Linked DNA regions of Homo sapiens. The protein of the gene in region 1 interacts with the protein of each later gene in a pairwise test. Each region holds a gene or a part of one and is shown in the gene's direction. Other genes may lie near its edges.

Region 1 (7,986 bases):
AGTAAGAACATGCAGTATTCGGTTTTCTGTTCCTGTGGTAGTTTACTTAGGATAATGGCCTCCAGCTACTTTTGCAAAGAACATGATCTCATTCTGTTTCTGGCTGCATAGTGTTCCATGGTATATATGTACTACATTTGTTTAGAAAACTTGATTTTTTAAATAAAAGTTTAGTGGACAGGTAAGATTTGCCTTGACTGAGCTTTAAAAATAACATTGTTTTCCAGATTGATTTTCATCACTTAATTTTACTTTGCTGGGAAGCCATTCGTACCCCATTTCTTAAAAATTTACTTGGGTTTAGGATTTTGTGAAAGAACAAAGTTATTCATGATTTTCCAAAGTTCTCCGACTTCCTCGAAAAGTTATATGGACCCTTCGCAGGTATTTTAATAGGTCTCATGGAAAAAACATCTGAATAGTTTAGACACACTAAGAATAGGTTGTAGGCTCAGCAGCCACAAAATGACTTGTCCATGGGGCCATTTTGCTTGGGAATCATGTGTAAAACCTAGGAAGTCAGTCTGGTCTAATGGCCAGAGCCATGAGGGGAATCAACACTTCTGGATTGTGTTTCTGTTTTTTTCCCCTCAATTTTCCACCTATCCCTGCCTGCTAAGTCACTTCTCTGTTCCTCAATTTCCCCTCATTCTTCCTCATTACCTCCCCTCCTCCCCCCAAAAAGGTCTTTTTTCTTGAATAGTTTAAGTAGGAAAAATGATTTGTCTGACCACAGCCAGGAGTGAGGCTTGAGCAAAATGCAAGACACTACTGTTATTAAGGTTGGATACTGGTGAGAAACTCACTTGTGTTATCTGCCAACAGGGGAGGCTTTGCACTTGGCTCGGGATTTTGGCTACACTTGTGAAACAGAGTTTCCAGCCAAAGCAGTAGGAGAACATCTTGCCAGACAACATATGGAACAGAAAGAACAGACAGCAAGAAAAAAGATGATCCTGGCGACCAAGTAAGCAGAATGGGGAAACCTCTGTGTGCTTTCATCTTCAGTATTTTTTTTTCATTTTCTTTGAAATGAGGAAAACAGTCTAGAAGGCACCCGTTCTCTAAAACAAGGAAGGTCTCACACACAAGCAGCTAGATATATTAAACAAGGACTTTCTACCCTTTGGTGCCCAGGCAAGGTTTACAAACTGCCCTTGATTAGTGATAAGGCTGTCATTGAAACTGATGAAAGTTCTTGGAAAACTTCTCCAGAATATGCAGAAATCCCTTGGAGAAAAACATGTTTAGGAAATGTAGATCCCAGGCAAATATGTCTTTGGTTGCTATGTAATTTGGTCTAAGGCACTCATTTTGCCTTAATAAATGAGGGTAAAATCTCAAAACACCATAAATGTTTGGGGAATGTGACAGAAGATGAGGTCACACGTTGGTGAGAGGTACCAGGGAGACCTCTGGGACCAAGGATCACCATGAGTGTCCCCATCCTCTCTTGTGTATGAGTAAGTAAATCATCCTTGTACTGCCTCATAGTGTTATTGTCTTTTTTTTTTAAGGTATAATGTATTTCAAAGCTTCTGGAAATTGTAAAAAGCCCAATTAAAATGCAAATTAAAATAATGAGGAAAACGATGTAGACAAATTTGACAATACAATAGGAAAGGGGGAAGCTTGCATAAGATGACTTATAAATTCCTTGACACTTGAAAGTTCGTCGATAATTAGTGGGAATACTACCATTTATTGTGTAAAAATCCAGCAGAACCGCAGATAGCACTGCAGGTTACGTTCAAAAGTTTTAGAGGAAAATCCTTCTGGTAGTAACCAATTCTTGTTATCCTCTCATTATTGAAATAAGTTATTGATACATATAGGCCATTAAGAATCTTAAATAATTTTTAATTCTATATTAAGATTTTAGAACTGATAGTTTCAGCTGGTTAAACTGTCATTTATGAACTAATTTTTTATTCAGGGAAAAGTATTTTGTTTGTTTGTTTGTTTGTTTGTTTGAGACAGAGTCTCACTCTGTCACCCAGACTGGAGTACAGTGGTGCGATCATGGCTCACTACAGACTCACCCTCCCCAGGTTCATGTGATCCTCCCACCTCAGCCTCCCGAGTAGCTGAGACTACAGGCATGAGCCAGCACACCCACCTGGTTTTTGTATTTTTTATAAAGATGCATTTTTGCCATGTTGCCCAGGCTGGTCTCAAACTCCTGGGTTCAAGCAATCTGCACTCCTTGGCCTCCCAAAGGGCTAGGATTACAGGCATCAGCCACTATGCCCAGCCTTAGGGAAAACTTTTTAAGAGAAAATCTAGGGCAGAGAGTATTAAAAACATCACTTCTTAGAAACTGATAACAAGTAATTATTTAATGCCTTTACAACATACTGGCTGAGATTTAAATTGGCTCAAAATGCATAAAACCAAAACTAAATATTCTCTTTTCTACCAGCTTCTTATGTAACATAGGACTTTTTACAAATTTAAGGAGTATATGGGATACTTGCCATCTCACAGGTTTGTCCAAGACACTTGAGTCCCTTAATTGAAGTTTACACACTTGCTGTGGCTGGCACTGTTTGGACTTAGGATTATATTTATCTATTGCTGTTCTGAAAGTACTAGATTATCTCATCTTGTCCCAAAGAGAAGAAAAGCAAAAGTTGGTGGCAGAAGGAATAGAGAAAAAGCAAAACAAGATTAAGAGGAAGGGAATAGCAGAAAGAGAGTATGAAGATCAAGAGATAGAGAAAGAAACTTATAAGGCAGGTATAAAAGTTGGACTTAAAATCTGGGAATAAATTTTGTGAAGTGGAAGCCCCTGAAAACTTGCTAGTAGAAAAGACCTAAATCTGAACCTTTTGCATATTTTGTCTTCTGGGAGTCTTTATCTTTACCATGTACTCATTTCCTTTTCCAAATAACTTATTGACTAAATTTTTTTTCCAAATAATTTCAGTCATATTTCAGTTTCTCCAAAAGGAGCTGAAAGCACATATAGTTAGTTTGAATCCTTTGCATTACCGTAGGAGAAAGATAAAGACTTGTTACAGATCAAGAGAATTATACAGTACTAGAATTTAGGTAATATCTCCCAGGTGTTTCCATAGCATATCATCCTAGCTGGCAGGATCATGCAGGTTTACCAATGCACATATCCATGTGAATTTTACTGTTGTCCCAAAATACAAATTTCCAAGAGAAAGCACCTTCATTTTTCCTACATCAAAATGACTTGGTTGTGGTTTTATCATGCATATTCAAAGACCTTCACTCCTTAATCCAGAGAAACACTTCATCTTGTCCTCCTTCCCCCAGGAATGGTTTTGGAAGTATTCACCACTACCATCATCAATGCAATAAATACAATTCCTATTTTCTTGGAGATTCCCATCATTCTGTTGAAGTGTGCAGCAGTCTCCAAGCACATTCAAATTGGCACCGAGATTGTGTTTTAATAGAAGTAAATGCTAGAAGAATTTGCGGGAGAAATGCTAGAAGAAATGCATCCATATTTGTCAAAATTATACTGAGACATCTATTTTCGGGTAGCGTATTTGACCAGGTAGTAGTATTTTCCTTTTACCTGGGATCTAAGTAACATACATTATTTTAGGTGATATTTTGAACTTTGATTTCATTAAACATTGTGAGAACATGTAATTTTATTTTATCTGTCTGCTCATAGCTGCACATTTGCAGACCATTAAATGTCAAGCAAGAATTGAATCCACTCATTTCAATTAACTTATCTTACAGAAGAGTAAATAGGAATAAACACCTGAAAATTATAATACAGCTTTATAATTTTTTATTTTTGTTACTTATATGCATCCTATCTTCTTATTGGACTATGTGAAATAAAAATCAGAGACTCCAGTCATAGCAAACATACGTAATATAACCAGTAATCACTATAACTAGATAAACTAGGGAATGTGTGGAAATAATACCCTTTTTGTGCAACATATGAATGGACCCAACATGTGTTCTGAGAAGTTTCTAATTTTACACCAATGGTAAAGCATGAGGTATTTTCATCAATTAAAATGGTAAAAGTTAATATTAAGTAGCCTATATGGATATTCATTACATCCTGGTCAGTTCACCTTTATTCATAAGACTTGGACAACATTATAAAAAATATATATGAAATCTAAAATTTATTGAATGAGAGATCCAATTGCTAATCTACATTGTCAGATTGGCCTACATATTTCTTTTTTACCTCCATGGATTACAGATTCAGTTGTCTTTAAGTATATTGCCAAGTATACAATTGTATAAAGGGCCTATTAATTAAGTGTCATTAGTCTTCTCATGCCACCTTATTTCCAGTGTTTTGTTGATTAAATATTTTGTGTAATTTAGACATTTATTTAGGCGAAAGAATAGAAACTGAAACATTTTTTGAATTCTAAAAATGAATCAGACAAAACGTGTTTATTTGGTTAATAGAAAACATATTTAAACCTTTTGATTGAATTTAGAACTAAATATGTCTAACATTTGATCTGCATTAAGGTAAAGCAGAATAGTTAACAACTTTTAGTGTTACCATACTGTTAATCATCTAAGGGTGAAACATAGAATTTGGATTTCAGACATCAGCTAAAAACTTACGTCCTTAAGGACAATGATGTAAGTGATAAAGTTAGAATGTATGATTCACTGAAGATCATCTTGTGTTACATAATTCATAATATGACATTTTGCCTTGAGATGTAAGATTGTTTCTTTTTGTAGATTTATAAATAAAAAATTAAATAAGAAGGAAAGTAGTCATAAAATCATAATTCTGTAAGTGCCATAATGAGATGATGATGATAATTGCCTACAGGGAATCTACAGGATTGTCATCTGTTTTCAAGTCTAAGCTTGAAAGTGAGTGAGTTAAGCTGTAGAATTAAATATAAAAGGGGGAGATATAATATAATATAATATTACTCCTGGTAGATCCTCCTGTGTGAATTATTTAGCATGAGTTAAATTTTTCCACCTCTTTAGCTTTCTCTAATTTCTTCGTCAATTTTATTATAACTTGCTGTATTATTCATACAGGAACAAAGTTGATTTGTCAACTTAAAAGTTTATTCCATTATCCAATTAATTCTGATATTATGCCACAATAACTAATGTTTCAATCTTTATTTTAATGTTTTAAAATTTATTTTAATCTGATAGAAAAACTAAAAGACTGCTAAAAACAAAAGTCTAAAAACAACACCAATCTTTCTTTGTAAGAATGGATCGTAATGATGACCTACCATACAGTAATTTGGAAATGATAGCATGAGGCTAAATTTAAAATTTTAGTTAGAAATTTCCATAAACAAAGACAACAAATCTATATTAAATAACACAAAGCACAAAAGATTATGATATACTCCTCAAAATGGCACCAAACACTTAGATTAAGTTGCATTCATTGATTAAAATATGGGCAATACACCTGAAAACAGGTATATTTCATAAAGCAACTGAGTCTCACAACAGAAAATGTGAGGAGTTCAGAAGAAACTGTCTGAATGAAAGTAGAAACACACAGTTGTTAAAAGCATGTATTCAGATGCTGTATCTCAGAGATCCAACTGGCCCTTTAGGAAGGGGATGTGAAGTATCTTATTTCACTGAAGCAGATAAGGACTTTGTTTTTCCTATCTCTGACTCCTTTTTACTTTCACCTGTGTTCTGCAAACATGAATAAGGCAATTTCTGTGAAATGACACAATATTTGAACACTGGCATTAAACCAGACCCTCATTGTTCATTTAAAATATCATAAGTGATCTTTGATGGAATTCAATAAATTTTAGATACCTGATTAAGAAGTCCCCACTGATTTTTAACTCAGTGATCAATTATTTGTACTTCAAGATATTTTGTCACTTTTTGGTAGTCATTTGTTGATGACACAAATGCCTTGCAGCAGAATAATGGCCGGGTTCATATTCACTTGAAATAATTTGACACTTCTATACCTGTCTTTGTTTACATTGATAATCAAAGTCAGGGCTACATTATTACATTTTTGCGACTGCCCATTGTAAAAACAGACAAAAAACCTAATTACTGTCATATTATCCCTTGATTTATGGAGTCACCTCACTTTAGATGATGGATGTTTTTAAGCAATTCTTTGGCAATCCTTTACTTTTCAGAGACTGGACTAATTTAGTGTTTTGTTGTTAAAATACAAAAACAAAAACAATATCTCTTTGTATAGTGTATTCTGCTTCTTTAGAATTATATCATTTGGAGTGTACATCACAAAGTCTTTACTGTTACATTGTAACACTGTAATTAAACTGAAACCAATGACCAAAAACCATAACCATTTAAAGCAAAGAAATGCAGCAGAAAAGTTACCTTGAGGGTAATTTTTGCAAGAAATTGGCTTACATGGAACATAATATAACCATTTTTTGTGAGGCTAGTGAACTAAATTACTGGTGATTATCTGCTTCAAATATTAGCATATAAAGTTAGCTCATAAGAATATGAACTCTAATGCAATATTGGGAAAAAAGGATTTTCCAAAGTCTGTTTGAATAATGGCTCTGAAGTAAGACTGTAACTTTAATTAAATTTGTTTACAGATATTATGTCTTAAAAAATCACATTTCAATTAAAAAGATCATAGTGATCATTTCATATGGGGTTCCCCTTATCCTGAGGTTAATTTATGAATAGTCATCTTAAAAATAAACATTGGTCTTATCAGTGCTCATGGATTGTTATTTGTTTGAAATGTTGTATGATTATCCTATAGCCGTTGAGAGCAAAGTCACCATTATGAAACTCAACTGTATGCTATGAATGGAACTTTTGAGGTTGCTTTATGAAATGTTATCTAGACTTCTTTTAAAAGAGAGAACAAGCCTTTGGTTAAATATCATGGGATGAAATTAAAGCTCAATTTGAAAATTTCAATTTTAAATTTGATTCTTTTATTTTAGACAAATCTGTAAAGAATTCCAAGACCTCTTGAGCCAAGATAGATCACCACTGGGATCCTCCAGACCCACTCCAATTCTAGACCTTGACATCCAGAGACATTTAACACATTTCAGGTAAGACTGGTTTTCCAGTTTGCTCAAATTCTTTACTAACCCAGATGCTTGTATTCCTATCACAGTTCTATTTAGAGATACCACTTATATGTTTATATGGTGACTGTCCTAGTCCTTTCAGATGGGCTATAACAAAATACCTTAGACTGGGTAATTTATAAACAACAGAAATATATTTTTTACAGTTTGGAGGCCTGGGAAGTCTGAGATTAAGGTGCCGGCAGAGTTAATTAGACAAAGGCTTGCTCTTTGCTTCAGAGATGGCACCGTCTCCATTTTCTCCCACATGATGAAAGGGCCAAACAAGATCCCCTGGGCTCTTTTATAAGGGCACTAATCCTATTCATGAGGGTTCTGCCCTCATAAGCTAATCACCTCCTAAAGACTCTATTTAATACTATTGCATTGGAGATTAGGTTTCAGTATATGAATTTGGAGTGGGGTGGAGGGGACACACATATTCAACCATAGCAGTGATTGACTGAATTTTTTAAAATTCCAAGCTTGTAAAATCAAATTGAGAGAATAACAATGCATGAAGCATTTTAGATTGGAAAATTTTATATCTTTATGCATTGTTAGGAAATCATTACTTTACAAAAATGAACAATATTATTTCAAATAATACTTAGCACTTTTGGATGAGGGTTCTGAAATCTTTTAAATTGTTTTTTATCTTGGTGACACAATTGTTTAATGGAAAGATGCCGTGACAGAAATTAACAGGATATCACTGACTGGTTTTCCAGAAGTATGTTAAAAATTTTGATGCAATTAGAAACTGCAAATGGTTCTTAAGTTAGACCACACAAGAGCATGAAATGTATTATTGGAGTCATATGTAACTAGCCTGCACATTGTGCACATGTACCCTAAAACTTAAAGTATAATAATAATAAAATTTAAAAAAGAAATGTATTATTGGAAGCATATTTTAAATTTC
Region 2 (7,986 bases), on another chromosome or scaffold:
CATGGCTACAATGCCAGGGGGGCCGGGAGCTGACATGGCTGAAGCAAGAGGTCCCAGAGGTGACCCTGAGCCCAGACTACAGGTGAGTGCAAGCCCGGCCCCCAGATCTTGCCCCAGCCCACCATATTCTATGCCAGGACTCATCTGGCTAGCTCAGAACCTGGTAGGACTGTGGTGCCAGGACAGGGTGGAGTGGTGCAAGGCAGGGGGTCTAAGATGGTATACCCTACACCAGGACGGCAATGGACAAGGCTGACGAGCTATATGACCGGGTGGATGGATTGCTGCACCAACTGACCCTGCAGAGCAACCAGCGAATACAGGCCCTAGAGTTGGTCCAAACACTGGAGGCCCGGGAAAGCGGACTGCACCAGGTCGGAACTACTTGCCCAGAGTGGGCCCTGCCCCGATCTCAGACGTGAGCCCCCAGTCCATAGCAGCTCTCTTCACTTTTCCCTGCTTGTGCTCCTCCAGATTGAAGTGTGGCTGCAGCAGGTGGGCTGGCCAGCACTGGAGGAGGCTGGGGAGCCCTCGCTGGACATGCTGCTCCAGGCCCAAGGCTCTTTTCAGGAGCTGTACCAGGTTGCCCAGGTATATGTGGTCACTTGTTCATGCCACGGGTATTGGGATGCAATGCCAGGAACTAGGAATGCAGAACTGTGTGAAAGCAATTCAATCCTTTGCTTTCTTAGACCTTATAGTCCCATAGAAGATATCAGTTGTAATTAATCACAGTCATATATGTGCCTGTAAACCCAGGCAAGATCTCTGGAGAGAATCAGTGCAGGTGATTCTGCCTGAGGGTATAACCAAGACTTTACCCAGCAGGAGTGTCAGGCAAGCTTTTTTTGGGTGATTTTTGAGCTGAGAGTTGAAAGATAAGTTGAGGTCAACCAGGCAGAAGAGGGTTGAGGATGGGGGCACATTCCAGGCTTGGAAGATAGCATGTGCAAAGGTCCTGTGGCAGGATGGAGGACGGTGTGCCTGAGGAATCATAAGGCCAGTGAGGTTGAAATGCAGAGCAGAGAGGAAGAAAGAGTTGGGGGAGTTGCGGTGGGACAAGCCTGGTCAGTGGCCACATCACTGGGCCCTGTAGCAGTCAGTGTGGAGTTTAATCAGGAAGGCCATGTAATCAGATCCATATTCTAGGAAGATTGCCTTCGTTTCCGAGTAGACAGTGACTTGGAGGATGGGCATGGGGAGTGCAGTGAAGAGGCAATTGCAGTAGTCTAGGTGGGAAATAGTGCCTCCTCTGGCCAGGATAGTGGCAGGGGAGACGGGTTGGAGAAGTTGATGGGATTTGCTATGTACCCATGTGGGAGGGTAAGGGACAAGGATGTTGCAAGGATGAATGGGTGCTGTTCCCTGAGAGACTAGGAGATGAGGTCATCTTGGGGGAAGGGCATTCAAGAGTCCGGTCTTGGGCATGCTCGAGATGGCTGTGAGGGATGAGAGGAGGGCCCTTGGGTCTTGGGCCTGGAGCTCAGAGGAGAGGTCTAGCTGGAGAGGATCACTTGGTGGGTCCAGGTGTTTGGATGACATTTGAAGTTGGTCACACAAGAGTGCCTGGGAGAGCGAGTGCACTGTCCTCAGGATCCCCAGTGTTTAATGGCCTAGGTGAGGGAAGGGGAGCAGGACGAGCCACCAGAGAAGAGTGAGGAGAATCAGGAGCGTGGGGAGGAGCTGGGGGAGCCCAGTAGAGAGTGGGCTGAATGACGCTGAGAGTTGGAGTCAGTGAGGCCTGAGAAGCGCTGGGGACGGGGCAGAGTGGAGCTGGAGAGGGCTGGTGCGGAGGGCGAGACGAGACGGTGAGGACAGATGATTCCTCTAGGAACTTTGGCTGTGGAGAAGGGGAGTGGATGTGGGTGGGGAGTAGGAGATACGGGTAGATGTTCCACCACAGGACAGACTTGATGGGGACATGTCGATATGTCAGCAGGAAGTATCTGAGTCTGGGGGCTAGACCGCCAGGCCTGGGCTGGCTGAGCCTAGTCTCTGTCTCTGCAGGAGCAGGTCAGGCAAGGGGAGAAGTTTCTGCAGCCGCTGACTGGCTGGGAGGCGGCTGAACTGGACCCCCCTGGGGCACGCTTTCTGGCCCTGCGAGCCCAGCTGACTGAATTCTCTAGGGCTTTGGCCCAGCGGTGCCAGCGGCTGGCGGATGCTGAGAGGCTGTTTCAGCTCTTCAGGGAGGTGGGTGAGAGTCTCCCCAGCTCCAAGTGATCCATGAGGCCGGAGGGATGGCAGCCCCAGCTTCAGCAGAGCCTGAGCTTTTCTTGGTCATGCTGCCTGTTCTCTTCCCTGGTCTTCAGTTTGACCCTAAAACCCAGTCACTGGGGCTGTGTCCTGGACAGCATCCTGTGGGGATGGGGAGTGGGTAGAGGAGCAGAGTGCCCAGCAGGCTTGGCAGGATCTTCCTCTAATGCTTGTCCGGCCCTGGTGTTGCAGGCCTTGACGTGGGCTGAGGAGGGGCAGCGAGTGTTGGCAGAGCTGGAGCAGGAACGCCCGGGGGTTGTGTTGCAGCAGCTGCAGCTGCACTGGACCAGGCACCCTGACTTGCCTCCTGCCCACTTCCGAAAGATGTGGGCTCTGGCCACGGGGCTGGGCTCAGAGGCCATCCGCCAGGAGTGCCGCTGGGCCTGGGCGCGGTGCCAGGACACCTGGCTGGCCCTGGACCAAAAGCTTGAGGCTTCACTGAAGCTACCACCGGTGGGCAGCACAGCTAGCCTGTGTGTCAGCCAGGTCCCCGCTGCACCTGCCCACCCTCCCCTGAGGAAGGCCTACAGCTTCGATCGGAATCTGGGGCAGAGTCTCAGTGAACCTGCCTGCCACTGCCACCATGCGGCCACTATTGCTGCCTGCCGCAGACCAGAGGCTGGAGGAGGTGCCCTGCCCCAGGCATCCCCTACTGTGCCTCCACCAGGCAGCTCTGACCCCAGGAGCCTCAACAGGTATGGGCAGTAGGCAGGGCGGGGAGGGCAGTAAAGGAGAGATGTCTTGGGTCCTGACTCCCCATACCTGGTAGGCTACAGCTGGTGCTGGCAGAGATGGTGGCCACGGAGCGGGAGTATGTCCGGGCTCTAGAGTACACTATGGAGAACTATTTCCCCGAGCTGGATCGCCCCGATGTGCCCCAGGGCCTCCGCGGTCAGCGTGCCCACCTCTTTGGCAACCTGGAGAAGCTGCGGGACTTCCACTGCCACTTCTTCCTGCGTGAGCTGGAGGCTTGCACCCGGCACCCACCACGAGTGGCCTATGCCTTCCTGCGCCATGTAAGCCCGACAGGCCATGTGGTATCAGCTCGTTCTGCCACACTCCCGAAGTTGCTGCTGGGCACATGCTTGGTGCCAGTCCCTGTGCTATGAGTATAGCTATGAGCAAGACTGGCAGGCTCCTGCACCTGAGGGTGCTCTTAGTCCAGTAGAGGAGACATAGAAGCAAGAACGATACTTGTAGATTATAGTTGGGGCTAGGAGGAAAATAAGCAGGATAGATGCTTGTGAATTACTGGCGGGGCAGGGGCTCCACTTTAGAGGGCCTGAGTGCGGTGCCAGGACACCTGGTACAAGAGGAAGTCTTTGAGAGGCTGATGTTTAAGCTGAGGAATAGGGGAGGGGCTGGAGTGAGTGTCCCACCCAGAGGAAAGAGCAAGTACAAGGTCGTGTGGAGGAAAGGGGGCCTGCCAAGGAGGTGGCTGAGTGTAGTGAGCAGGACAGTCCCAGGTGAGGTGAGCTCTTAGAGCCGTGGGAGGAGCAGAGCTGAAGGCAGGAGCTCAGTCTGAGGGCAAGGGGCTTCTTCCTTGGGGGCCTGTGGGCACACCCCCTTTGCCCAGTACTGTTCTTGCCAAATCACCCCTTGTTCAAAGCAGGGAAGACTGGGTCTGTAGGGGAGGCCTCCCTAAGAGGCATCTACTGGCATTTTGGTCCTCTCAAGCTGAGGGTGGTCTAGCCTGTGCCAGCCTTAGGGAGCTGGCCCCTTTGCACTGGGGCTGAGCCACATGTCCTTGTAGAGGGTGCAGTTTGGGATGTACGCGCTCTACAGCAAGAATAAGCCTCGCTCCGATGCCCTGATGTCAAGCTATGGGCACACCTTCTTCAAGGTAAGTGAACCTGAGATTAGGAGGAGTAGGGGATGCGGGGAGTGCCCCCAAACCACTCAGTGGCCTCCCATCCGCCCACAGGACAAGCAGCAAGCACTGGGGGACCACCTGGACCTGGCCTCCTACCTGCTAAAGCCCATCCAGCGCATGGGCAAGTACGCACTGCTGCTGCAGGAGCTGGCACGGGCCTGCGGGGGCCCCACGCAGGAGCTCAGTGCGCTGCGGGAGGCCCAGAGCCTTGTGCACTTCCAGCTGCGGCACGGAAACGACCTGCTGGCCATGGACGCCATCCAGGGCTGTGATGTGAGTCATCCCAGGGCAAGGGCAGTGGGTGTGAAGAAGAAGGCAGAAGAGGCTGGCCACCCACCAGCCCCCAACTCTGCAGGTTAACCTCAAGGAACAGGGGCAGCTGGTGCGACAGGATGAGTTTGTGGTGCGCACTGGGCGCCACAAGTCCGTGCGCCGCATCTTCCTTTTTGAGGAGCTGCTGCTCTTCAGCAAGCCTCGCCATGGGCCCACAGGGGTTGACACATTTGCCTACAAGCGCTCCTTCAAGGTAGGCCTGCCCACCCCAGGCCCCACCACTTGTTTTCCCGCCCCATGCCTTACCAAGCCCCTCTCTCCCGCTGGCCACAGATGGCAGACCTTGGTCTCACTGAGTGCTGTGGGAACAGCAACCTGCGCTTCGAGATCTGGTTCCGCCGCCGCAAGGCCAGGGACACCTTTGTGCTGCAGGCCTCCAGCCTGGCTATCAAGCAGGCCTGGACAGCTGACATCTCCCACCTGCTTTGGAGGCAGGCCGTCCACAACAAGGGTGGGTCCATGCCCCTCCTTCACGCCACACTCCCCTCACTGGAGAGCTTACATTGACCCACAGGAGCCCAGAGACCTGGGAAAAGCTCGGGAAGTGGGGAGAAGGCCCAGCGACAGCCACCAGTGCAGGAGAAAGGATTTCAAAGCCAGGCAGCCTTGCTGTCACTGCCTCTGACTTTGGACACAACGTGAACTTCTCTGAATATAAGGGGCATCATGGCTCTCTCTCTCTTTATTTTTGGAGACAGGGTCTCGCTCTGTCGCCCAGGATGGCGTGCAGTGGCATGATCTTTGCTCATTGTAGCCTCTGCCTCCTGAGCTCAAGCATTCTTCCCACCTAAGCCTCCCAAGTAGCTGAGACTACAGGCATGTGCCACCATGCCTAATTTGTAAAATTTTTTCATAGAGGTCTCATTATATTGCCCAGACTGGTCTTGAACTCCTGGGCTCAAACAATCCTCCTACCTCGGCCTCCCAAAGTGTTGGGATTACAGGCGTGAGCCACTGCGCCCAGCCAGGGGCCTCATCTTTAAAAGGGGAATATGGCACCTGCCCCACAGGATTGTTGGGAGGAGAGCACCTGGCACTAGAAAGGCTCAGCTCACAGGACAGTTAATGTGCTGGATGGAGGTGTACAGGAAAGACTTATCTGGGGGGTGGTAGAGGCCCAAGGACAGGCTTATGTCCAGAAGCATCCCACTTATGTCCACTCTCCACCCAGAGGTGCGCATGGCTGAGATGGTGTCCATGGGTGTGGGGAACAAGGCCTTCCGAGACATTGCTCCCAGCGAGGAAGCCATCAACGACCGCACCGTCAACTATGTCCTGAAGTGCCGAGGTAGCAGGCAGGCTACAGGGTGTGGGGGTGGGAGTAGGAAAGCTGTGCGGGAAGCACTGTGGCCCTCCATTAGTGCTGGCCCGCACTTTCCTTGGGATCTGGGGCCAGGCTAGGCTCTGGCCTGTCCCAACCTGACCCTCTCTCTTATGCAGAAGTTCGCTCTCGGGCGTCCATTGCCGTAGCCCCGTTTGACCATGACAGCCTCTACCTGGGGGCCTCGAACTCCCTTCCTGGAGACCCTGCCTCTTGCTCTGTTCTGGGGTCCCTCAACCTGCACCTGTACAGAGACCCAGCTCTTCTGGGTCTCCGCTGTCCCCTGTATCCCAGCTTCCCAGAGGAAGCAGCACTGGAGGCTGAGGCAGAGCTGGGCGGCCAGCCCTCTTTGAGTATGTCTGGGCCTAGCCAGAGGCAGGAGGGCATGGCTTGGGGTCTGGGGCTTCCCGTGCTGACAGTTCACCCAGTCTCCCTCCCTAGCTGCTGAGGACTCAGAGATCTCGTCCCAATGCCCATCAGCCAGTGGCTCCAGTGGCTCTGACAGCAGCTGTGTGTCAGGGCAGGCCCTGGGTAGGGGCCTGGAGGACTTACCCTGTGTGAGTGCCATTTGCCCTATACCCACCAGCCCTTCCCCAGCCCAAGCTGAGCCTGTGACTGTGACCAGCCCCTCCCCAGCCCAGGCTAGGCCTTTACTTTGGGTAGAGCTTGGGGTGGGTGGGCCAGAGCCATTCCCCAGACACCTCCTGGGTCCAGAGTCAGGGAAGCAGGCATTCATGCCTGGCCTGGCCCTGCAGGTCTGAGCCCGGGACTGGACGAGCAGTAGATCCAGCAGCCTGCAGCTCCAAGGAACATTGCCTCTCTGGATCTGCTGTGACCAGGGTGTGGCTGACACCTGGGCTACCTCCAACCTACATGTGCAACGCTGTTGACTACCCTTTCTGATGTGTGTGGCCATTGGACTAACTGGCACGGGGCCTCTCTAGGGAAGTCTGGTTGTAGAGCCTGAATAGGCTCCTGGCCCCATGACCCCTTCTCCTGTCCCCAGCTCCCATCCCAGTTGTGGGTTAAGAATAGGCTAGAGCAGACATTGGGTGTTTCCATGCTGTAGGCTGGTGGGGGACCATGTGCCTCTAGGCAGTGACTAGGGTGCCCCCACCCCTCAGGAAGAACACAGGTGGGCTCCTAGCAGCTGATCCCCAATGCCTGGCCTTAAAGCCGAGCTCAGTTACCATAGGGACAGGTCCACCTCTACTGGGCCCTCATGCTTGCCTTTCCTGGCCCCCAGGCCCAGCCCCTTTTTACTGGGGCAGTTTCGTTATTTTGACTTGATGCCTTTTGAATAACTTTCAATAGAATTGTCTAAAATTATCTTACTGGTTGTTAGGCCTTTGGTGTCTCAGAGAAGGAGTCTAGGTCTTTGATGTGTGATTTAATCTTTTATTTGTTTATAATAAAAAATAGACTGATATGTACCCTCTGATGGGCACATGCATTCTGGGCTATCTCCAATTAAAATGAGACTTGGCGGGTGGGGCATGAGGGGCTGCATCTCTGGGCACCCTAGTCCTCTTGTAGGTACTTTCCCAGGATGGAGTAAGAGACAGACCTAGACAGGCCCCTCTGGATGAGCAGGTCCATGCATCGGCCATATTTCCTGGCGAAGGGCAGTGTAAGCTGGAAGGAAAGGCCAGTCTTATCCCTGATTTCCTGGCCAGTTGTCTACTCTAGCTCCATGTGGGTGGGGTTCTCCCATTGGGGCAGGGACAGGGCAAGCCCGGCTGTTGGGGACTTTTGATGCTCTAGGGCCCAGCTCTGCCCCAGGGCATCTCACAGGGTGGGGCTAGAAATGGCTATCAGGGAACAAAGCAGAAAGACCGGAGGTTCAAAAATCTGTTTCCTGCTACTGGTTTTCTGCTTTTTAGCCATACATGCTGACTTCACCTTTACAAACCACATATGAGCCAGATGCCTAATGGTAACTGGGTACTAGAGGGCTTGTGGTGAAAGGTGTTATAATAATGCTCTTGATTATAGAAGTGTCAGATCAATGAGAAACTGCCTAAATCGTTTCGGCCTCAATGTTAAAATTAGATTAAGGAATCAGAAAAGGAAAAAGAAAAAAACCCTTGATCATTCCTTTGCCCTTACTGAATATTTTCTTTTTTTTTTTTTTTTTTTTTTTTTTTTGAGACGGAGTCTCGCTCTGTCACCCAGGCTGGAGTGCAGTGGCACGATCTCGGCTCAC
Region 3 (8,407 bases), on another chromosome or scaffold:
AAAATAGATAAAAATAAAACTGTTGGGTGAATCAAATTTTTTTGTTGTAAAATTCATAAAGAATATATCTTTTTTTATTATTTTTTAGAGATAGAGTCTTGCTCTGTCACCCAGGCTTGAGTGCTGTGGTGCAATCATGGCTCGCTGCAGCCTTAAAATCCTGGACTCAAGTGATCCTCTCGCCTCTGCCTCCTGATCAGCTAGAACTTACAGGTGCGTGCCACCACACCCAGCCAGTTTTTCTATTTTATTTATTTATGTTTTTGAGATGAAGTCTCACTCTGTCATCCAGGCTGGAGTGCAGTGGCACGATTTCTGCTCACTGCAGGCTCTGACCCCCAGGTTCAAGTCAAGTGATTCTTCTGCCTCAGCCTCCTGAGTAGCTGGGACTACAGGTGCGCACCACCACACCTGGCTAATTTTTTGTATTTTTAGTAGAGACGGGGTTTTACCATGTTGGCCAGGGTGGTTTCAAACTTCTGACCTCAAGCGATCCGCTCATCTCGGCCTGCGAAAGTGCTAGAATTACAGGCGTGAGGCATGATGCTAAGCCCAATTTTTCTATTTTTTGAAGAGATGGGGTCTCACTGTGTTGCCCAGGCTGGTCTTGAACTCCTGGCCTCAAGGGATCCTTCTGTCTTGGCCTCCCAAAGTGCTGGGATTATAGGCATGAGCCACAGCACCGAGCTGCTAAATAATATATCTTGAGGCCAGGCGTGGTGGCTCACGCCTGTAATCCCAGCACTTTGGGAGGCTGAGGCAGGCAGATCACGAGGTCAGGAGATCGAGACCATCCTGGCTAACACGGTGAAACCCCGTCTCTACTAAAAATACAAATAAATTAGCTGGGCGTGGTGGCGGGCGCTTGTAGTCCCAGCTACTCAGGAGGCTGAGGCAGGAGAATGGCGTGAACCCAGGAGGCAGAGCTTGCAGTGAGCCAAGATCGCGCCACTGCACTCCAGCCTGGGCGACAGAGAGAGACTCCATCTCAAAAAAAAAAAAAAGTATATATATATATCTCTTGATAAAAATTCAGTATAGAAAAATATTTTTAAAAGTTAGAAATCACTTAACTGTGCTATATCAAAAACTTATCCAGGAATTAAATTGGTTTAATATAGTTCATTTCTTTAAAACTTTCATAAATTCATTAATGTTGATATAAATCAGAGTTGAAAGTTTACATATCATGATTTTGCAGGGATTTAGAGAGAGAATTCTCAAATGGTTAGATGAAGGGTTTGGACTGTAAGTGGTATTTTACAGTCTTTAAAGCACTTTCACACCCATTCTTTCACTGGATTCTCCTAATAACCTTATGAGGTGGCAGGGCAGGCGGGACTCATTCCTTCCATTTTGCGGATGTATTATAGTAACTGAGATTTCGAAAAGTTAAGGGACTTACTAAATGTCACCCATCATGTTTATGGCAAGTTCTAATTTAGGATCTGATTCTCAGATTACTAGTCCAGTAAGCTTCTCATACCTATTTATTCTCCTAACTCAGACAATGCTTTACTTGCTGGATAGACCAAGCTAGCCCCTACTAGGTAGACCGCCTAGCCCCTACTTTGTGCCACTAGGAGAAAGAAGTGGGGAAATGGAAGAGGAGAAGATGGGGTTTAGAAGAGGGCAAGGTCAGTGTAACACTAAGAGGAAGAGACTTGTTTGTCACATATCACCAACATATGATAGGTATCTTTCTCATTATTCTCAGAAAAGGGAGAAGAGGGGCTGAGATTTTAAGGCTGGGAGAATAGGATGTAAAGGGAGATGGGCAGTTTGAAAAAGAGAGTGCCTGATGTATTTGGGGAAAGTGAGTCCTGAGGGACAGGAGTCTAACTAGAGTGAGGTGGGGTGAAGCTAGAGACGCTGCAGCGGGATGGGGACTAAGTCATCCTCTGAGCTAAGCAACCTGGGCTTTTTCCTGTAGGCCTGTAGCAGAGCTAAAGTGTCCTAGTTGTTCTTACAGAACACCAAGGAACAATGGCATATAAAATTGAAAATATCAAATTCTGCTGGGCGCAGTGGCTCATGCCTGTAATCTCAGTACTTTGGGAGGCCGAGGTGGGCAGATCACTTGAGTCCAGGACTTTGAGACCACCTTGGGCAACATGGCGAAACCCTGTCTCTATAAGAAAAAAAAAGAAAAAAGAAAAATTAGCCGGGCATGGTGGTGCCTGTAGTCCCCGCTACTTGGGAGGCTGAGGTGGGAGGATCACATGAGCCCAGGGAGTCGCTGCGGCAGTGAGCTGTGATCATGCCACTGAACTCCAGCCTGGGCGACAGAGCGAGACTCTGTCTCAAAAAATGAAAAAAGAGAAGAAAATATCAAGTCAAACAGGGCTTAAATGAAAAAAATCGTGAAATCAAAAATAATCTGATACTACATTCTGTATTCTAGAAGAGCTGGACACAAGGGTCAGAAGAAGAGAAAAACTTTTTTAAAGTGCAAGACATATAGCTTTGTGTAGGCAGAGCTGCATAGGCCCTTTACAATAACTCTGTACCTCTCTCTTCACTTCCTCTCCCCACCGTGATCTCTGGCCAACAGATTAGAAACCACTGCTATAAGAATTCAGATAAGCCGGGAGCGGTGGCTCACGCCTGTAATCCCAGCACTTTGGGAGGCCGAGGCAGGCGGATTACCTGAGGTCAGGAGTTCAAGACCAGCCTGGCCAACATGGTGAAACCCCATCTCTACTAAAAATACAAAAAAAAATTAGCCAGGCATGGTGGCACATGCCTGTAATCCCAGCTACTCGGAAGGATGAGGCAGGAGAATTGCTTGAGCCCGGGAGACGGAGGTTGCAGTGAGCCGAGATTGCACCACTGTACTCCAGCCTGGCTGACAGAGCAAGACTCTGTCTCAAACAAACAAACAAACAAACAAACAAACAAAAAAGAATTCAGATATAAGGAAAACCAGTGTGTCTAAAATATGTTCTAGGGAAGGTAGGACTTTGGCTTGAGTTTGAAGAATGAGTAAGAGAAAAGGAGAAAATGGGTGTGGAAAGACCAGAAATGGAAAAATTTTGAGAAGACGCATTGAAAATTGAGAAAATTCTCCCTTCCAACTTTATGAATTGGAAGTGACTACTATTATTTGTTTTAATAGTGGAACTATTAAAACCAGGCAGGCACAGTGCTGAAGCATGAATGAGACAATGGGAAGCCATGGAAAGCATCTAGGCAGCAAAGAAAGGTTGTTAGATTTGGAAATTATGTTTTTTGGAAGTAGCACAGCTTAAAAAATTGTCCAGGTGTAGTGTGGCTCACACCTGTAATCCCAGCACTTTTGAGAGCTGAGGCAGGAGGGTCTCTTGAGGCCAGGAGTTTGAAACCAGCCTGGGCAATATAGTGAGACGACGTCTCTTACAATTAAAACAAAACAAAAAAGAAAACAAAAAACAGTCGTTATGTGCTCCTTTTAAACAATTCAAACAATATGAAAACAAAAATTACAGTCGGGCATTGTGGCTCATGCCTGTAATCCCAGCACTTTGGGAGGCTGAGGCGGGCAGGTCAGGAGGTCAAGAAATCGAGACCATCCTGGCCAATATAGTGAAACCCCATCTCTACTAAAAATACAAAAATTAGCTGGATGTGGTGGCGCGCGCCTGTAGTCCCAGCTACTCAGGAGGCTGAGGCAGGAGAATCGCTTGAACCCGGGAGGCAGAGGTTGCAGTGACCTGCGATCGCCCCCACTTTACTCCAGCCTGGCTATAGATCCAGACTCCGTCTCAAAAAACAAAAAAAACCTACGTGCAATCTGACACCCTTTCCCCCAAGATAATCATTGCTAATATTTTGGCGAACCTCTTTCCTGAAATCTCTCCATGCTTGTAGAATATTGTGTCAAACCTCACATAAATGCACTCGTGTAGACATGCTGTTGTGTAATCAACTTTTTCCCCGAAGAATAAATTGTGAATAGCTTTTCATGTCAATAGATTTATATCATTTTAAATGGCTCCTTAGTATTGCATTGTATGTATATGTCACGTCTTATTTAAGCAGCACCCTATCGATGAACATTTACTCCCTTCATAATTAACTACGTCATATAACAACTTTGTGCATTCATCTTTTCGAAATTGTTCGATCATCTTTTTAAGGTAAATTCTTAAAAGTAATGGAGCTGGGTCAAGAAGAGGATATGCCCTTTGTCGTTTGGATTCAAGTTGCCGAATCGTCCTCAAATTTGCAGGGAGACCAGCGAGGAAGCTCCGGCATTAGTTCTGGTGAGAGACAGCTGAAACGGAGATGGCGAGGGATGAACAGAATCACAGGTGATCTAGCCCATCAAGGCCCATCCTCGGTGGGCTGGCGTATTCCTTCCCTTTTGCCTCTCTTTCACTTCTTTTTCTTAACATGGAGGAAGAACCGAGAACTCCATCTCCCAGCATTTCGCAGGGACCACACTCCCTGGGAACTGTAGTACCGGGTCTGAGAAGGGTCCGGAAGGAGAATAGGAAGCTGAGGGGCATGCTGGGAGGTGTAGTCCAGAGACAGAGACGAGAGGGAGAGGGAGAGAGGGAGAGAGGGAGAGAGGGAGAGACAGAGAGTGTGTGTGTGTGTGTGGGCGGGGGGAGGGGGGTGTCTATGCAAAGAGGATGGAGACGCTGCGAGTACGGCCCCTTGGGGATGGGGCCTCGGGCGACCTGACTTTCCTCACAGGTGGTCTTTGAGTCTACAAAATTCGCCAGCGGATGGTTGGCTTTATTCCACTGTCCGTGACCGGAGAGGGCGCGGCCCCTCTGCACCGGGCTCGCGGCGGGAGGCGCAGGCCGCGCGCGGGCTAAAGCAGGGCATGCCGGGAGTTGTGGTCCCGGCGCTCTGAGGCTGTGGGACGTGTCGCGGCGCCGCGCCGGCTCCTCCTTCCCTGCCCTTCTGAGCGGTCCCCCGCCTCCTCCCTCCGCCTCCTCCTCCCTCGCCCGCAGCCGAGCGTCCCCTCCCCCCACCCGTCGGGCTCCTCGGCGGCTACTGCAGAGGATTCAGAGCCGAGTCGCTGAGGAGGAGGCTCCGGTCCCCGCGCGCCATCCGCCACCCTACTGGACACGGGCGAGAGCGTCGCCGCCGTAGCCTCCGGAGAAGACAAGGGCATCGCCGCCTCAGCCGCCGCCGCCGCCGTTTTCGCCTGCAGCTGCTCACCGGTGAGGAGACTCCCCCCGCCACAGGGTCCGCTGGTCCTGAGTCTGGGCCGGTGGCGCTGGCGAGAATGAGAGGGGAGGCTGCGGAGCCCCCGTGCAGGTTGGGGGGAGGGGGTTGAGGTCGCGATGGAACGGCGGGCTGGCGGGGGAGACTTGTCCAGGCGCTGGCCGGGGGTGGGGTGAGGGTGGGACCCAAGCAGGTTGGGGGGCGGGCGACAAGGGAGGAGGACTTTTGATGGAGAATAACCCAACCTGGGACAGGAGAGTGGGGTGGGGGCGTCGGGTTGGAATTCGGGATGGTCTTGGGGCGAGGTGGAAGATGAGACTAGGGTGGGATGGCTTTTAATGGGGGAGGGGACTGAATGAGGGTGGTGATTTGGGTTTGGCCTGGAGCAGTTGACAGCTTGGGATCTGAGCTGGGGTGAGGGGCAGGGGAATGATTTCAACGGAGAGTGAGTGGCATGTACAGGGTTGGTTAGGGCCCTGCGTAGTGTTAATTCAGAAGGGTGGAATTTGGGGTGGACCTGGGGCAGGATGATGGAGGTGGCAGGAGTTGGGGGTGAGGGGCTTGGCATGGGTTGAGACCCAAGCTTGAAGTGGGTGTTTGTCATCTGGGGCTGGTGGAATTTGTGGAGACTTATGGAATAGCATGGGTTAGGATAGAGCAGAAGAGTGCAATTTGGGGGTTTCCTGGGGTGGGCTGATGGAGGTTGGAATAGGAGTTGGTGGAGGTGGGACATTCAGTGAGGGGAGTGTGATGGTGAGCTGGCAGGAAGGGGCCACATTGGAAGTCAGGCCCGAAATGGGAGGACAGGGATGGAAATGGAGTGTGGGGCACAGTGGGTTGGATTTAGGGTGATCTTACAATCACTGGAAAGGGCATGGTGGCTCCTTGGTTGCAGAGTCAAGGCAGAGGGCACATAAAACATCACTGGGCTGCTTTCATTGAAAGGATAGCGGCAGGGGTGAGCAAAGTTGGGGGATGGTATCTTGAAGAAAATATCCCTTGGCCAAGGTGGCAGAGGGAGTTTTGGAGAAGGACTTTCGGAGATGAGCTGGTAGGCCTGGGGAGGTGGTTGCTGATGGTGAGGTGGCACAGGGGAAATTTAAGGAATGGGAGACCTGGAGCTGTTGGTATGGATGGGGCAGAGAGGATGGAGAGGGACAGTGAGCTGTGCTGGAGAGCAGGGGGGAATTGGGTTGGATTATTTTGGTGGTGAAGGATTGGGGTGGCCTCCAAGAGACACATGAGGGTTAAGGGTTGGAATACTTAAATGAACAGCCTTGGTGGCTGTGGTTGGGTGAGAGGCAGTAAGGCTGTTAGAGGGGACTTTGCAGGGGACACGGAAGAGACCTTCTCATTCTTAGGGGCCATTTTAATCTGTTCGGGTGATGTTTTTGTTTGTTTTATTTATATTAGTAAAATTTGGAAGTCAAGTCAGCCCAAAGGGTAAAGTTGAAAGGGGATTTAGTTAAGGTAGAATTAAGGAGGGGAGGGTGTCTTCTGTTATTTGTATATCATAAAAAGTAAGTTGGGGGAAAAAAGCATACTTCCAAACTAAAGGTGGGAGAAGATAAACTGGAATGTAATGGATATCTTTCTATATGATGTCTCTGCCTTTTCTTTTCCCCTCTCCTCCTGGTGTATTTAAAAACTAGCCAGGCATTTTGAAATTTAAATAGATTTGATGAGCTTGAGATTGTTAAGGGTGCATTCCTTGCTTGAGAACTAATGAGTGAGCCTGAAAAATATGAGACTGAATTTATTTTGTAGGTAGGTAACAAGCACATAGGCAAAAAGAGCTTGGGCCTTTTTTACCCCCTCTTTAAATTGATTGCTTGAAGACGCCATTTGTTAGTGTCCTGGTTTGCAAGGCAATTAGGCCCATCATTGTATTGCAGGCTAATAATCCTGAGATGAGTCTTGGCACCACCGCTTTATGTAAACAGAGAAGACAGGAAATATGGAAATGTCATAAATATTCATTGGTGAGATGGTTTGGTACTGATGGAGTTTTTCATATGATTGTCTTTTGACATTGATAAGATTTAGAATAATTGGACTGTATTTCTAAAGATTGAATTTTCTTCCAAAGGAATTCAGGTGATCAGAATTCTGTCAGATGTGAATAAATAAAGCATATTGAGTCATTTTTATTTTATTTTTTGGGGAATGATGTTGATGTAGTCGCATTGTATTAACTACAGAAACAGCATCTCCACCTATTCATCAGAAATTCGATTTAAACCTTAGCGATATGCTCATTCTTAGGGCAGAACGATGATAATGGAAGGTACACAGGAGTGCAAATGGAGGGAACATCTTTAGAGAAACAGTTCTATGGACCTAATTGCATTAACTGTGATAATATGTTAAACATAAAGTGGCTGTTGATTAGAGCTCAGACTGAAAAAAAATGAGGAGGGATGTAAAGAAGATAAAATTGGCACCATTGGGATCGAAATAATTCTTTTTATTTTTGTTCAAGCTTCAGAATTTAGCTCGCAAACAAACCATTTTCCTTGGCTTTCACGATTGAGCATATAAAAATACCATTTAGAATCTTTTTTTTTTAGCTCCAAAATGGGCAGAATGATGGAACGTTGGACTTATCCTTTGAATTGAAAGTGTTTTGTAATGAGGAAGCTTTCTGTATTATAATAAAGATCAGGTTTGAGCAGTTACCTGTAATTCAGTGAGACTGTAATCTAATGTGAGCATTTCTCTCATAACTTTACTCTGAGGTCTAGACGTTGTTTTTGCAGATCTGCAGGCTTGGTCTAGAGGTGGGATGTTTATATTAAAGCCCTAGCTTTTGAAAGCCCAAAATGAAAAGTGCCTGGGAGAAATGTGTTGGTGGATTTTTTTTTTCCACAGCCGTGGTTACCTGTGTAGTAGTAATGTGTTTTTGTATCTTTACCTCATTTGATCCTCCCGATATCTTGGTGAGAAGAGAGCAGATGGAGGTATTGATAGACAGAAGCCTTTGTGGAACGAATAGCCCATGAGTTTAGGAGTTGAGTCCCAGATTCAAATCCCAGTTCTACTACTTGAAAGCTGAGTGATTTCAGTCAAGTCATTAAAAACCTTTCAGATGGCCAGGCGTGGTGGCTCACGCCAGTAGTCCCAGCACTTTGGGAGGCCGAGGTGGGTGGATCACTTGAGGTCAGGAGTTTGAGATCAGCCTGGCCAACATGGCAAAACCCCATCTCTACTACAAATACAAAAATTAGCTGGTAGCACGTGCCTGTAA
Region 4 (7,986 bases), on another chromosome or scaffold:
AGGTGATTTAAAGTATATAGGAGGATGTGCTTAGGTTATATATAAAATACTATACCATTTTGGCTGGCCGCAGTGGCTCATGCCTGTATCCCAGCATTTTGGGAGGCTGAGGCAGGTGGATCACCTGAGGTCAGGAGTTCAAGACCAGTCTGGGCAACATGGTGAAACCCTATCTCTACTAAAATACAAAAAATTATCTGGGCATGGTGTCGTGTGCCTGTAATCCCAGCTACTCAGGAGGCTGAGGCAGGAGAATCACTTGGACCCTGGAGGCGGAGGTTGCAGTGAGCTGAGATCGCACCATTGCACTCTAGCCTGAGGACAGAGCAAGACACGTCTCAAAAAAAAAAAAAATACTATTTTATATAAGCCTTGAGTATCCACGGATTTTGTTTTGCAAGGGTCCTGGAACTAACCGCTTTGGGGTGCTATCAGCTTGACCACGTCAGAACCTTGTTCTGTTTTTCATAACATTTAAATATCAATACACAAAAAACTCAGCATCTTTATTTTCTCATGTAGTTTCTTATTTATTGTGATTTCTGTGATGTAGGGACCTACAAGTACTAAAATGTCAGAAATCAAGTTGCAGAATGAATTAGGAACAGCACCAGGACCAGACCATGGCTTTCTGGTACTACTGATGTGTTGCAATTTGCTCAGATAATACATCTTTAAAAAAGAGAAAATAAGGCTGGGCGTGGTGGCTCATGCCTGTAATCCCAGCACTTTGGGAGGCAGAGGTGGGTGGATCACCTGAGGTCAGGAGTTCAAGACCAGTCTGACCAACGTGGAGAAACTCCGTCTCCACTAAAAGTACAAAATTAGCGTGGTGTGGTGGCACGTGCCTGTAATCTTAGCTACTGAGGAGGCTGAGGCAGGAGAATTGCTTGAACCTGGGAGGCGGAGGTTGTGGTGAGCTGAGATCGCGCCATTGCACTCCAGCCTGGGCAACGAGCGAAACTCCATAAAAAAAAAAGAGAAAATGGCAGTACAAAATTAATATAGAAAAAATATTAAAATAGAAAAAAATCTTGAATTGCATGCTATTTAGTTTGTTTAGTTTGTATTTAAATACAAATGTATATTTAATTACACTTTTTGAATGACTTGATTTTAGTAAACTAATTTTATAGATTATGGGATATTTCCTAATCTGTGTTCTAAAAATGTTGATAGTATGATAACAAACAAGTAAAACTATCTTTAGGCCAGGCGCGGTGGCTCACGCCTGTAATCCCAGCACTTTGGGAGGCCGGGGAGGGTGGATCACCTGTGGTCGGGAGTTCTAGAACAGCCTGGCTAACATGGAGAAACTCCATCTCTACTGAAAAAATACAAAAATTAGCCAGCCATGGTGGCGGGCTCCTGTAATCCCAGCTACTTGGGAGGCTGAGGCAGGAGAATCACTTGAACCTGGGAGGTGGAGGTTGCAGTGAGCCGAGATCACGCCATCGCACTCCAGTGTGGGCAATAAGAGCAAAACTCCATCTCAAAAAAAAAAAACAAAAAACTATCTTTAGCCTGGGTGACAGAGCGAGACTCTGTCTCAAAAAAAATAAATAAAGGTGACAGCAGGCCAGGCATGGTGGCTCATGCCCGCAATTCCAGCACTTGGGTAGGCCAAGGTGGGCAAATCACTTGAGCCCAGAAGTTCCAGACAAACCTGGGCAACATGGCAAAATCCCTCTCTCTAAAAAACTATAAAAATTACCCAGGCATGGGCCAGGTGTGGTGGCTCACGCCTGCAATCCCAGCACTTTGGGAGGCTGAGGCGGGCGGATCACACGGTCAGGAGATCGAGATCATCCTTGCTGATACGGTGAAACCCCATCTCTACTAAAAACACAAAAAAAGGAGAATCACTTGAACCCATGAGGTGGAGGTTGCAGTGAGCTGAGATCGCGCCACTGCACTCCAAACTGGACGACAGAGCAAGACTCTGTCTCAAAAAAAAATACATATATATATGATATCATATATATGATATATATCATATATATATTTAGATTTTTTACTGTACAAACAACAGCATTACAACAGTAATGGTGAAACTTTACCTATAATTCTATTCCTAGTTTATTATTTCTTTTTATATTTTTTCTGCTGTATATGTATCATTTATTTCATAATTATAATTGTAAATAAATTTTTGTATCTTGCTTTATAATTAAGCATTATGCTATGAACATTTTTCTATGTGTTGCTACAGTCTTTCTGATTTCCTTTTTTTTTTAAATGAGACAGAGTTTTCCTCTTGTCGCCCAGGCTGGAGTGCAATGGCATGATCTCGGCCCACTGCAACCTCCGTCTCCTGGGTTCAAGCGATTCTCCTGCCTCAGCCTCCCTAGTAGCTGGGATTACAGGTGCCCGCCACCACCCCCAGCTCATTTTTGTATTTTTAGTAGAGATGGGGTTTCACTGTGTTGGCTAGGCTGGTCTCGAACTCCTGACGTTAGGTGATCTGCCCGCCTCTGCCTCCTAAAGTGCTGATTTCCGTTTTTTAATGAGTGTTTTAAGTTTCCTTGAGTCAATATACAAAATACATTTAACTATTTCCCTATTGTAGGAACTGCCAAGTTAGGCTCTTTTTTTTTTATTCAGTGGTTTTGTTGTTGTTGTTTTCTTTTGTTTTTGTTTAGGACGGGGTCTCGCTCTGTCGCCCAGGCTGGAGTGCAGTGTCACGATCTCGACTCACTGCAACCTCCGCCTCCCAGCCTCAAGCAATTCTCCTACCTCAGCCTCCTGAGTAGCTGGGACTACAGGCATGGAGCCACCATGCCTGGCTTTTTTTTTTTTTTTTTTGGTATTTTTAGTAGAGATGGGGTTTCTTGGCCAGGGTGGTCTCAAACTCCTGGCCTCAAGTGATCTGCCCGCTTCAGCCTCCCAAAGTGCTGAGATTACAGGCAAAAGCTGGCACACCTGGCCATAAAGTTAAGCTCATTTTAAATTTTTTAATGTTGCCATGAATGAACTTTCACACTGACTATCTTTGCAGATATTTTTATTTTACTTCTGAATTTTCTTTAGGACAAAATCTCAGAAATAATTGGGTCTAAAAGGTTGATTAAGCCAGGCGCAGTGGCTCATGCCTGTAATCGCAGCACTTTGGGAGGCCGAGGTGGGTGGATCACTTGAGGTCAGGAGTTCAAGACCAACCTGGCCAACATGATGAAACTCTCTCTCTACTAAAAATACAAAAATTAGCTGGGTGTGGTGGTGCACGCCTGTAGTCCTAGCTACTCAGGAGGCTGAGAATCATTGGAACCCGGGAGGAGGAGGTTGTAGTGAGCCGAGGTCATGCCACTGCATTCCAGCCTGGGTGACAGAGCGAGACTCTGTCTCAAAAAAGAAAAAAGTAAATTAAAAAATAAAAGATTGGTTATTACATTTTTGTAAAGCCACTTGAAGAACTATAAAATGCTATTTGTTTTCTTACAGTTAATTTTTTTTAAAAAACTTTAGCACCACCAAATCCAATTTTTTGGAGAAAGAAATTTCTTGGCCAGGTAAGGTGGCTCATGCCTGTAGTCCCAGCACTTTGGGAGGCTGAGGCAAGCGGATTGCTTGAGTCCAGGAATTCGAGACCAGCCAGGGCAACTTGGTGAAACCTTGTCTCTACAAAAACACAAAAAATAGCTGGGCCTGGTGATGAGTGCCTGTGGTCCCAGCTATTCAGGAGGCTGAGGCGGGGGAATCACTTGAGCTGGGGACATCAAGGCTGCAGTGAGCTGAGGACGTCAAGGCAGCATTGAGCTGAGATCATGCCACTGCACTCCAGCCTGGGTGTCAGAACTAGACCCTATCTCAAAAGAGAGGAAAAAAAAAAGAAATTTCTTCATTCGGACACTCAACTCAAATAGTTATTTTTGCTTTCGCGTGTAGTCTTCCTACACTTAAATACGAAATTGTAACCATAGTGTTTAATATCTTGGTAATTTTTTTCACAGAACACAGTATCAGATATTTTCTTTTCTTTTTTTCTTTTTTTTTTTAGAGACAGAGTCTCACTCTGTTGTCCAGGCTGGAGTGCAGTGGCACGATCTCAGCTCACTGCAATCTCTGCCTCCCAGGTTCAAGCGATTCTCCTGCCTCAGCCTCCTGAGTAGCTGGGATTACAGGCACACACCACCATACCCAGCTAATATTTTCTATTTTTTTATAGGTCTTTATAACTTTTTAAAATTGAAAGTAATATAACCAAAGAAAATCTGGAAAAAGAGTGGAAAATTATATATAACCTCCCCAGTAATAACCATTGTTGGCATTTTGTTGTTGTTCTTGCCAGTCATTTTTCTTATGTATGTATTTTCTTGAAATTATCACATATAGATACTATCAGTCATTGGTTGAGTGTTTTCCATTTATTTGCATTTCTTGCTGTATGACTTGTTTGCTTGTTTGTTCATGTACTTCAGCTATTAATCTATTAAAATATTCCAGGCTGGGCACAGGAGCTCATGCCTGTAATCCCAACACTTTGGGAGGCTGAGGCAGGAGGATCACTTGAGCCCAGGAGTTCAAGAGCAGCCTGGGTAACACAGTAAGACCCCTGTTTATACAAAAAAAATTTTAAAATTAGCTAGGTGTCATGGTGCACACCTTTAGTCCCAGCTACTTGGGAGGCTGAGATGGGGAAATCACTTAAGCCCAGGAGGTCAAGGCTGCTATGAATCATGTCACCAGCCTGGGTGACAGAGGAAGACCCTGTCTCAAAAAAAAAAAAAAAAAAAAATGTTCTACTTTTCTTTCTGTGTTGTGTGAGTTCTTTATAAACATTTTTTTTTTTTTTTGGAAACAGAGTCTTACTCTGTTGCTGAGGCTGGAATGCAGTGGCGCGATTGTAGCTCACTGCAACCTCCGCCTCCCAAGTTCACGTGATTCTCTTGCCTCGCCTCCTGAGTAGCTGGGACTAATGGTGTGTGCTACCACACCCGGCTAATTTTTGTATTTTTAGTAGAGACAGAGTTTCCTTATGTTGGCCAGGCTGGTCTTGAACTCCTGACGTCATGTGATCCACCCGCCTTGGCCTCCCAAAGTGTTGGGATTACAGGCGTGAGCCACTGTGCCCAGCCAATAAATTTTTATTATAATTTAGTATTTAAGTATGTAATGAGGAAATAATATGGAAGAATGAATACTTCATTTTAATTTATCTTCCAGGGTGACTGTGAAGATCACGCTAACCTTCTGTGCAGCCTTCTTCTTGGATATGGATTAGAAGCCTTTGTTTGTGTTGGGACCAAGGCAAAAGGAGTACCTCATGCATGGGTTATGACTTGTGGAACTGATGGGGCCATCACTTTTTGGGAGAGTTTAACAGGACACAGGTTAGTTTACTAAGTTTATAAGGATATTAAAATGAAGTTATAAGTTTTTTTTTTTTTTTTTTTTTGAGATGGAGTCTCGCTCTGTCGCCCAGGCTGGAGTGCACTGGCACAATCTCAGCTCACTGCAACCTCCACCTCCCAGGTTCAAGCCGATTCTCCTGTCTCAGCCTCCCAAGTAGCTGGGATTACAGGCATGTGCCACCGCACCTGGCTGATTTTTGTATTTTTAGTAGAGACAAGTTTTCACCATGTTAGCCAGGCTGGTCTCGAACTCCTGACCTTAGGTGATCCACCTACCTCAGCCTCCCAAAGTGCTGGGATTACAGGCGTGAGCCACTGTGTCCGGCTTAAGTTATAAGTATTTTAAATTATAAGGGTTTTTTGTCCATATTGATGGTACTTGAAGGTACGTGTTGATGATTTTAGTTAGAGCCTTTTCAGTGATTATGTAAAAAAGTACTTCAATTATGGCAGCCAAGTAAATGAACTCTAAGAAAACTTTTACCTCAAATATTCTTTACCAACATGATGTTGGTAAACAGTAAATTATGTTTACTAGTTTTGTATGATTAGCATATTTTTTTTTCAGTTTTCTCTTTTTTTTTTTTTGCAGTGTCTCATTCTGTTGCTCAGGCTGGAGTGCAGTGGCACAGTCACAGCCCACTGCAGCCTCCCCCTCCTGGGTTCTGGTGGTCCTCCTACCTCAGCCTCTTGCGTAGCTGGGACTGCAGGTGTGCACAGCCATGCCTAGCTAATTTTTTTGTAGGGATGAGCTTTTGCTGTGTTGTCTAGGCTGGTCTTGAACTCCTGGGCTCAAGCAGTCTACCTGCCACGGCCTTCCAAAGTGCTGAGATTATAGGCATGAGCCACCACACCTGGCTGGCATATGTTTTTTTCTGATGATCATACCTAAGTCTGAAAATAAGTTCAAGTTGTAAATGATGATTTCTTTTTAAAATTTGATGTGGTTACCATCTCCACGTTGGCAAATCCACTGGACACATTTTTTAAAGTACTTTAGCCTGTCATTAGATTTTGAAACAGCTGAGTACTTCTGTTGTAGGACTTCTTCCTTAGTTCAGCTAAGAGCTGAGTCCTTGTCACATGGCCACGAAAAATTAGGCTCGCAGGCAATTTGAAGGGGGAGAAAAATGGAATTTATTGAACAAAAAGGAAAAACACTGGGAAACGGACGCTCCACAAAGCCAGAGTGCCTGCTAGTGTGCTTCGTGCCTGCTAGTGTGCTTCCTGCCTGCTAGTGTGCTTCCTGCCTCGCAGATTGAATTCCAGCTTCCACTCAGGAAGAGGAGGGGCCAAGCTCCTCCCCACTGCAAATTGCTCGAACTTCTGTGGCTTCTCCCCAGTGTGCACTCCTCCCAGTGCACAGGCTGGTTGGAGTTTCTCTGGGGACCCCTTTCCACCTGGCTGTCTCACTTCTTTCTTCATGGAACATTCTCTTTCCTTAGCTTCTTTTTTATCATTGTCTTTCAATATTTATTATTCCTCTCTGGCTGTTCTTAGTTTTTCCTTCATCTTGTCTTTAAATGTGTGTGTTCTAGAGGCCCAGCCCTGGGCCCTCTTTTCATTCCCGAGTCCTCTTTCTCCCTGGTTGATAATCATGCCTAATAATGTTTTGGTTAGTTGTGCCTAAAAATGCATAACCAAATTATTTTAATTATGTTATCTGAGGCAAACTTTTTTTATTTTTATTTTTTTTTCTTGGAGATGGAGTTTCGCCCTTGTTGCTCAGGCTGGACGGCTCACTGCAGCCTCCGCCTCCCGGGTTCAAGCAATTCTCCTGGCTTAGCCTCCCGAGTAGCTGGGACTACAGGCACGTGCTCCCATGCCCAGCTAATTTTTGTATTTTTAGCAGAGACGGGGTTTCACCATGTTGGTCAGGTTAGTCTCGAACTCTTGACCTCAGGTGATCCCCCTGCCTCGGCCTCCCAAAGTGCTGGGACTACCGCATCCGGCCTTTGATCTTAACAGTATACATAGAATGTATTCTGTTGTTAACAGAGTTGGTTTCAATATTGTAAAGACGTACCATACAATTAATACAGAGTAATCAAATTGTGGAAATATAAAAAAGAAAAACAAGTATTAAACTGTAGTTCTGAGAAGTAGTTATGGCCTTAAGTGTTAGAATAATTTTCTCAGTAAGATGCTGCCTTTTTAATTTTTAAGTTCTCATATATAAAATTATTTAATTTTTTTAGGTACATCCATAAACCTACCAATCCTGATGAACCTCCAGTTGCTGAACAGCCCAAACCACTGTACCCATATCGAACAATTGGTTGTGTTTTCAACCATCAGATGTTCCTGGGAAATTGTCAACCCTCTGATGCAGTAGAAACCTGTGTATTTGATTTGAACGATGAATCCAAATGGAAACCCATGAGTGAGGAAGCAATTAAATCTGTGTGTGCTCCTGGAGCTACAACATCCCTTCCTCCCTTTCCACCTCTGTGTGCATCCACAATTGACGCGTCAGTAACAAGTAATGAAATTGAAATGCAGCTGAGGCTCCTGGTGTCAGAACACAGGAAGGTAATTCACACTGAAATAGTTGTAGTTTCATACTTCTTTTCATTTATGTATTTAACTGTTTTTTGGTGTGTGTGATAGTGCCAGTCACTATTCTAGCCCTGAA

Evidence for each region.
Region 2: the proteins of TFAP2D (region 1) and PLEKHG4 interact in binary tests that used the Homo sapiens proteins (3 or more experiments, as listed by UniProt).
Region 3: the proteins of TFAP2D (region 1) and FAM168A interact in binary tests that used the Homo sapiens proteins (3 or more experiments, as listed by UniProt).
Region 4: the proteins of TFAP2D (region 1) and CEP76 interact in binary tests that used the Homo sapiens proteins (3 or more experiments, as listed by UniProt).

The regions. Positions count from the first base shown.
Region 1 is NC_000006.12:50,744,282-50,752,267, forward strand, and holds part of TFAP2D (transcription factor AP-2-delta), read left to right. Parts: intron 1-825; coding exon 826-967; intron 968-6,929; coding exon 6,930-7,043; intron 7,044-7,986.
Region 2 is NC_000016.10:67,282,268-67,290,253, forward strand, and holds the end of PLEKHG4 (puratrophin-1), read left to right. Parts: coding exon 1-82; intron 83-235; coding exon 236-374; intron 375-474; coding exon 475-591; intron 592-2,007; coding exon 2,008-2,190; intron 2,191-2,445; coding exon 2,446-2,948; intron 2,949-3,022; coding exon 3,023-3,269; intron 3,270-4,006; coding exon 4,007-4,096; intron 4,097-4,177; coding exon 4,178-4,399; intron 4,400-4,481; coding exon 4,482-4,652; intron 4,653-4,732; coding exon 4,733-4,910; intron 4,911-5,630; coding exon 5,631-5,747; intron 5,748-5,899; coding exon 5,900-6,133; intron 6,134-6,208; coding exon of another isoform or gene 6,209-6,221; coding exon 6,222-6,337; intron 6,338-6,535; coding exon 6,536-6,541; 3' UTR 6,542-7,213; downstream 7,214-7,986. Other genes in the region: BTB/POZ domain-containing protein KCTD19, read right to left, coding at 7,302-7,415. UniProt on the Homo sapiens protein: Possible role in intracellular signaling and cytoskeleton dynamics at the Golgi.
Region 3 is NC_000011.10:73,594,672-73,603,078, reverse strand, and holds the start of FAM168A (protein FAM168A), read left to right. Parts: upstream 1-4,966; 5' UTR 4,967-5,156; intron 5,157-8,407.
Region 4 is NC_000018.10:12,678,006-12,685,991, reverse strand, and holds part of CEP76 (centrosomal protein of 76 kDa), read left to right. Parts: intron 1-5,163; coding exon 5,164-5,330; intron 5,331-7,549; coding exon 7,550-7,883; intron 7,884-7,986. UniProt on the Homo sapiens protein: Centrosomal protein involved in regulation of centriole duplication. Required to limit centriole duplication to once per cell cycle by preventing centriole reduplication.